2 linked regions of the Homo sapiens genome follow. The protein of the gene in region 1 purifies or fractionates together with the protein of each later gene. This does not show direct contact. Each region holds a gene or a part of one and is shown on either strand. Other genes may lie near its edges. The genes, in order: PIGG and ADGRG5.

What was found.
Region 2: the proteins of PIGG (region 1) and ADGRG5 purify together in Homo sapiens (co-immunoprecipitation; one large-scale study listed by IntAct). This does not show direct contact.

What each region holds. Positions count from the first base shown.
Region 1 is NC_000004.12:516,210-520,018, reverse strand, and holds part of PIGG (GPI ethanolamine phosphate transferase 2, catalytic subunit), read right to left. Parts: intron 3,681-3,809; exon of another isoform or gene 3,583-3,680; coding exon of another isoform or gene 3,543-3,582; intron 1-3,542.
Region 2 is NC_000016.10:57,562,942-57,566,750, forward strand, and holds part of ADGRG5 (adhesion G-protein coupled receptor G5 isoform 1 precursor), read left to right. Parts: intron 1-149; coding exon 150-306; intron 307-906; coding exon 907-1,038; intron 1,039-2,092; coding exon 2,093-2,209; intron 2,210-2,347; exon of another isoform or gene 2,348-3,657; coding exon 3,658-3,809. UniProt on the Homo sapiens protein: Orphan adhesion G-protein coupled receptor (aGPCR). Ligand binding causes a conformation change that triggers signaling via guanine nucleotide-binding proteins (G proteins) and modulates the activity of downstream effectors, such as adenylate cyclase.

The sequences.
Region 1 (3,809 bases):
CGGCACCAGGTCCCTGAGCGTGAACCCACACGCCTGCAAGCACACCCGACTGCTGCAGGCACCAAGTCCCTAAGCATGAACCCACACGCCTGCAGGCCCACCCCACTGCTGCCGGCACCAGGTCCCTGAGCGTGAACCCACACGCCTGCAGGCCCACCCCACTGCTGCAGGCACCAAGTCCCTAAGCATGAACCCACACGCCTGCAGGCCCACCCCACTGCTGCCGGCACCAGGTCCCTGAGCGTGAACCCACACGCCTGCAGGCCCACCCCACTGCTGCAGGCACCAAGTCCCTAAGCATGAACCCACACGCCTGCAGGCCCACCCCACTGCTGCCGGCACCAGGTGCTCTGCACTAAGTGCCAGTAGCCAGCAACACTAGGCGGCTCGCTCGTTTCACCTCCCTAATGACCCTATGAGGCAGGGATGAGCATCAGAACTGTTATCCAGAGGAGGCAACTGAGACACAGAGGGTGAGTCACGCACCTGGGCCACAGTGCCAGTGGGTAAAAGCTGCAAATGAAACTCAGGCAGTCTGGTTCCAGGGCTGGCATCCTTCATTGCTACACCTACCACCCTGGATGGGGGGACGCCTGTGTCCACACCCCACCGCCTATCAGAGAGTCACAAAGCTATGGGGGTGCACCTGTGCATGCATCGAAACAAATATCCATGGAGCGTGGACGACGTGCCAGGCACTGTGCCAGGCGCTGTGCCAGGGGAGACACAGCATGGCGAGCAAGCAGGTGCAATCCTTGCCTGCTGGGGCTTGGATCCAGTAGGGCTCACAGACACGCACGCACGCACACAAGCGTAATTACAAACTGTGACTGCATTACAGCTGTAATTACAAGTTTCCCAGGAAGGAAAAGTAGAGGGTATCAATGAGGGATTTTTGGTAATGGGGAGGAACTGATTTTGGATTGGGAGTGGGCGCTGGACCAGGAAGGTCTGATGTTTACGCTGAAATGTAAACGGTACCCAGGAATTCGCCAGGCAAAAAACTGCAGGAAGAGCATCAAGCTGATGGGAACAGCATGTGCAAAAGTCCAGAGGTGAGAAAAAGCCGGTCCCACTACACTGAGAGAGCCGGGTGGGCACAAAGCCTCCAACAGACTGGACGCCACCGAGGGACTGCACGGGCCTGGCTGTGGGTTCTAAAACGTATTTCAGTGTCAGAACACATACCCCATTTTGTTTTAGGAAAAAGGATCCCCGACGGTGTAGACAATGGGCCGCCAGGGGGGGTTCCAGACGCTGTGGCTGTGTTTTCAGTCAAGGGAGGCTCCTGCATTCCTTTAACAGGCTGGTTTCCTCTCATATCCACTGTGGTTCCCATCTTCCCCCAGCCACTACTTCTGGAACAGGCAAATAACCCTTCCATTGTTGTTTTGATTTTGTTGGTATCTTTTTTGTTTTGTTTTTTGAGATGGAGTCTCGCTCTGTCACCCAGGCTGGAGTGCAGTGTCGCCATCTCGGCTCACTGCAAGCTCCGCCTCCCGGGTTCACACCATTCTCCTGCCTCAGCCTCCCGAGTAGCTGGGCCTACAGGCGCCTGCCACCATGCCCAACTAATTTTTTGTATTTTTAGTAGAGATGGGGTTTCACTGTGTTAGCCAGGACGGTCTTGATCTCCTGACCTTGTGATCCCCCCGCCTCAGCCTCCCAAAGTGCTGGGATGACAGGCGTGAGCCACCACACCTGGCCAATTTTGTTGGTGTTTTTATCACTCTTAGCGTAGAAAAAAGGACACAGTAACAAAACAAGCAATATGCAAAAGCTACCAAACTCATACTATTTTTTAAAAAACGAAAAGCACAAGTCACTGTTGTCCCTGGTCTTGACTAAAATGGCTCCATGGCCAAAGTCCTCCACCTCACAGGGTGAGAGCTGGTGCTCGGTGGGGCCTCCAGACACTCATCACATCCGGTTCCCAAGCACTCCTTGGCTGGCCAGGTTTGTCTTCCACACGTGACTCTAGGAGGCCGGTTTACATCTCAGCGCAAGCTTGTGGACGTTCACTCTATTTGGTAGTAATAGTATCCCTCTACTTCAAGTAGGGAAATCTGCCAACACCACATTAACTGCTGCCCCCAAATAGGAGTCGACTTCCTCCGGGCTCTCAAAGGAGTCCCAGTATCAAACATGATTCTTGATGAACGCGGCTGCGTCAGAGTCGATTGTCTGAAGACATCCCAGGGAGACAAACGTTCCTCTCCTGGACCCTTCCTGTAGCTGTCTCCTGGCACCTCCCTTGGCCCCACACCTGCCTCAGGCAACTCCACCTCCTACTCCCATTAGAGTCGCAGTGTCTGCTGCCTAGGGCTCTCGCCTGCCTAGTACCAGCCAGGCCTTCCCCCACTCTCCATCTGACGAAGCCACTCATCACCCTCCATGGCCAGATCCAAAGCTCAGTTCTCAATTCCTGATTTTATTCAATACCAACCTTTGACGCAGCTGCCCACTCCATGCTTCCTGAAATTACTTCTTTACATGGCTTCCTGGACACCAACACCCCCACCCACAAGCACCTGCCTTGCAGAACTGTTCCTCCTAAGTCGTGCCCTCCTGAGGAAATTATTACTCTCTTTGCTTTCAGCTGAAAGCCCCGGAGTCGTACCTAACGCCTCTGGTCTGCTCGTACCCAATATCGCAGCACGTGAGCAAATCCTGTCTTCATGACCTTCAGAATCTTTCCAGAATGCAACCACTTCTTCACCACCCTTGCCTGGGCCCTGGCCACCCTCACCTCTCACAGAAGTACAGCCACTGCCTCCTGACTGGTCTCCTCCTACAGCACAAAGCAGAATCCTCCACGAGGGCGCCTGAGACAGCCTTCGAAAATGCAAGTGGGAGACTCTGGCTCTCACCAAACCCTGCAGCAGCTCCCCATTTAACTCAGAATACAAGTGAAAGCCCTTCCAGCGCCCAGTGGCCCTCACCCCTTAATGCCATCTCCTCTGCCCTGCCCTTGCCACTCTGGCCCCTGCTCTGACCATCCCCTGAATGTGCGCCCCATGGAGGACCCTGTCTGCTGCCCCCACAGCCTGTAATGTGCCCTCCCAGATGGCCAGCGGCCAGCCTGCCCCAGTGGCTCCCCCACCCGCTTCACTTCCCACCCCACGCCTGTTTATTCCTTCTTTTTTTTTTTTTTTTTTTTTTTTGAGGCAGAGTCTTGCTCTGTTGCCAGGCTGGAGTGCAGTAGCGCGATCTCAGTTCACTGCAACCTCCACCTCCAGGGTTCAAGCGATTCTCCTGCCTCAGCCTCCTGAGTAGCTGGGATTACAGGTGCCCGCCACCATGCCTGGCTAATTTTTGTATTTTTAGTAGAGACGGGGTTTCACTGTGTTAGTCAGGCTGGTCTTCAATTCCTGACTTCATGATCCGCCTGCCTTGGCCTCCCAAAGTGCTGGGATTACAGGCGTGAGCCACCGCACCCAGCCCTGTTTATTCTTTTCCTAAGGTACTCGTCACCATCGGCCATCGATCACTTCCTTTTCTCTCCTCCCTCTGGAAGGTTCCATGAGGGCAGAGCCTCGTACCTGCTCTGTCTCCAGTGCCTGTTAACAGCCTCTCATTCATAACAAGATCCTGGTAAATAGTTGTTGAATGAATAAATTTATGAAAGAACTTTAGATAACTGCATCTGAGGGTGCTGCCAATGGTGATAGTTCAAAGTTCTAAGAAAACAGAAACACAATCTGTATCATCAAAGAGTAGTGATGAAAAAATACTCCTGTGACAAACTGCATACCACAGAAACACATCGGAGAAACCCGAGCTCAGTGGAAACACACAGCTCTGACAGA
Region 2 (3,809 bases), on another chromosome or scaffold:
GCCAAGGACACTGTGTGTGCAGTGGTCTGGAGGTGCGTGTGACAGAGGTGTGGGTGGGGAGGCCCTGCCCTCCCAGGCTGTCTACAGCCCCCTCTCACCCTTACCCCACTCCGGGCTCTGGCCTCCCTGGCCATCTCTCTGGGCTGCAGTCAACTCCACCAGCTGGAGCAGATGCTACTGAACACCAGCTTCCCAGGCTACAACCTGACCTTGCAGACACCCACCATCCAGTCTCTGGCCTTCAAGCTGAGCTGTGACTTCTCTGGCCTCTCGCTGACCAGTGCCACTCTGAAGCGGGTGCCCCAGGTCAGAGGCTGCGGGTTGGGGGGTGTGGCCAGCTGCCCCGCCCTAGAAGTCCTCCAGGCATTTAAGGTCTGGACTTTCTTTAGGCTCCACTGTCTTCCTCCCCACACCCCACAGTCCAGGCTCTGCCCTAACTGGCAGTGAGTTGCCTCCTCTGTAAAATGGGGCTCATACTCGCTGTGTGAACTGTGGAAAGGGAGGTGCTTTATTGCCCCTGCAGGGCAGAATCTTCTTCCTGCTTTGGCTGGAGGCTGCCCGCTGCGGGAGGCGCTGTGGGAGAGGCCAGAAACCCTGGCTCCTTTTAGGACCCTGGGGTGATCAGCTGGATCCCTGGCAGGGGCTGGGGCTGGTGCTGGGGCTGGGTGCTGAGGTAGCTCCATCTTCAGGGGTTCAGTGGGTCAGGTAAACATCCAAAACTCAGGAACAGCATGGAGGGAAGGCCTGGGATCTTGGGAAGTTTGGGAGGAGATGCAGCCTGGGGGGAGAAGGTTCTGTGGGTGGAAACCCCAAGGAAGGTTTCACGGGGAGTGGGAGGCAGTGAAGGTGTTGGGGTCAGGTCTCCAGGTCCTGGTTGCCAAACAGCCTGTTTGCGACCCTCTGCAGGCAGGAGGTCAGCATGCCCGGGGTCAGCACGCCATGCAGTTCCCCGCCGAGCTGACCCGGGACGCCTGCAAGACCCGCCCCAGGGAGCTGCGGCTCATCTGTATCTACTTCTCCAACACCCACTTTTTCAAGGTCAGTGTGATGGCGGGCCAAGGAGGGTGGGTGCCGGCCCCTTCTTGGGATCCACTGCAGGTGCCCATGTCACTGCCTGGCCTCTGGGTGACCAGCACTGAGTGAGACCAACCAGCCATCTGTGCAATCCAAGCCAGCAATTGTCCCTCTCTGGGCCTCAGTTTCCCTGCCAACTTTAGCAGAATGGTAGGAAGGTATAATTACAATCTGCAAATAAGACCTAAGAAACCTACGATGTGCCTGTCGGTAGGCGGGAGACAGACAAGAAGGCACTTATTATTCCCTGCCCTCAGATAACTCTCTGTCTTGATGCCTAGACTAAGACCTTACAGATTTTTTTTTTTTTTTTTGGCAGAGTCTCGCTCTGTTGCCCAGGCTGGAGTGCAGTGGCATGATCTCGGCTCACTGCAACCTCTGCCTCCTGGGTTCAAGCAATTCCCCTGCCTCAGCCTCCTGGGATTACAGGCGTGTGCCATCATGCCCAGCTAATTTTCGTATTTTTAGTAGAGACCGGGTTTAACCACGTTGGCCAGGCTGATCTTGAACTCCTGGCCTCAAGTGATCCGCCTGCCTTGGCCTCCCAAAATGCTAGGATTATAGGCGTGAGCCACTGAGCCTGGCCTGATCTTAGAGATTTAATGTCAGCAGAAGGTTGATTATAGCCATAGAGATCCAGAGTGATGGATGAGTCAGGGTGGGGTTGGGGCTCTTCCCAGTGGGCAGTCCAGGGGAGTTTCTGGGGAAGGTGCCTTTCAACCTTGGCTTTGAAAGTGAGTGAGGATAGTGGTGAGGTGGAGGGCGTGAGGCTGGAATGCATTAAACGAATGGGAGGTGGAGCAGGGGGTGGTGAGAGGACAGCTTTCCACAGGGCAGAAACAGCACATGCAAAGGCTGGGAGGCTGGGAAGGCTGGGAGGCTGGGAGGCTGAGAAAGCTTTCACGCTGCACACGTGAAAGTCTTGCTGCTTGTTCTCATCCAGGGAAGCGGAGCTCAGACCTTACCCAGGGCCTCCCCATTTCCCCTCCACTCAGCCCTTCTCCTGCTGCCCTTCCAGGATGAAAACAACTCATCTCTGCTGAATAACTACGTCCTGGGGGCCCAGCTGAGTCATGGGCACGTGAACAACCTCAGGGATCCTGTGAACATCAGCTTCTGGCACAACCAAAGCCTGGTACTGCTGGGGGCGCCCCCGTTTCCACTGCACCCCTGCCCCTCTGTGACTCTCCTGTTGAACACTGGTTTGACTAGACCCAAACCTGTGGAACCATCTTGGAAATCCATCACACTTTGAAAATTCCTGCTCAAGAAATAAGAGAGAGAGAAGTTTTTACTCATGCATTTGTCAGAATTCTTTCAGTTGCAAGTAAGAAAAGACCACTTCAAGCCAGCTTGAGCACAGAGGGAACTGATTGGCACACATCCATGAAATGTCTAGAGGTGATCCACCAGCTTCAGACATAGCTGGATCCAGGGATGGATCTGATGCCCTTGTGGCTCAGTCTCTCTCCGTCTCAGCAATGGTCTCCTGTCTTGGCTGTCCATTCTGTGGCATGATGGATGCTGGAGAGCCAGACTTCCTTTCCCTCTTCCCATCAGGCTCTTCCCCCGACTCCCCACCCACAACCTGCCCCAGTGCAGATCAGGGTCTCAGGATCTTAAAGGTTCAGCTGGGTCACACATGTCCATCCCTGCACCTGTCACTGTGCCCAGGGGGATGGAATGTGTGGATTGGCCAGGCCTGGGTCACACGGCCCAGGGACTGGGGTGAAGGAGTGAGCTCCTAGGGTAAGTGCAGATGCTGATCCTGGAACAGAGACAGGGCTGCTTGTTGGGGGTGGGGGCAGAGTGGGGTGGTTCACAAGCCTCAGTGCCTCCATTTCTGGTTCCTGGCATTCCTGAAAAGCCCGGAGCCTCTGCTTTCTGGCTTCATCTTCCCTTCAGCTTCACCAGGACTGCCCTGCACTCTAAATTTCACCATCATCCTTTCCTTTCAGCTCTGGGCTTTTGCCACTATGGTTCCCTCCACCTGGAATGCCCTTGCCCTACTCGTGTTGAAATCCAACACGTCCTCTAAGGGTTCAGGGCCCCCACCTCCCCTTCTCCCTTTGGGTCAGCTCTGCCTACCCTCCATGGTCTTCCGTGACTACCTGTGTCATTTCCTCCACTTCTCCACCCACGTGGCTTGGCATTAGGGTTGTCTGTGGATGAGTCTCCCCCAACCAGGCGTGGGTCTGAGCACATTGCTGTTCCCCATGGGGAGGAAGGGAAGGGATCAGCTGGTTATGGAGCGCCTACTGTATAAAAGGCCAGAGCTGGACACTCAAGATTCCGTGTTGCCCTTTGTTTTTCCACCATTGTTGTAACATGGGTACGAATGATCCTATTCTGTAGATGACTAAACTGAGGCTCAGAGCAACTTGGTGTCTTGCCTGGGTCACTCTGAGAGCCCACAGTGGAGGTGGGACAGGAATCTGAGACTGTCTGAAGCCAAAGGCCAGCCAGTGCCTGGTAAAATGTTGGCAAATGTGCAGTTGAGTCACCGTTGGCCCCCAGGACTCCCAGACACTGATCTGCAGCCTTTCCTCTGCACCCTATGACTGACCCAGCATCTCCACCCAGGAAGGCTACACCCTGACCTGTGTCTTCTGGAAGGAGGGAGCCAGGAAACAGCCCTGGGGGGGCTGGAGCCCTGAGGGCTGTCGTACAGAGCAGCCCTCCCACTCTCAGGTGCTCTGCCGCTGCAACCACCTCACCTACTTTGCTGTTCTCAT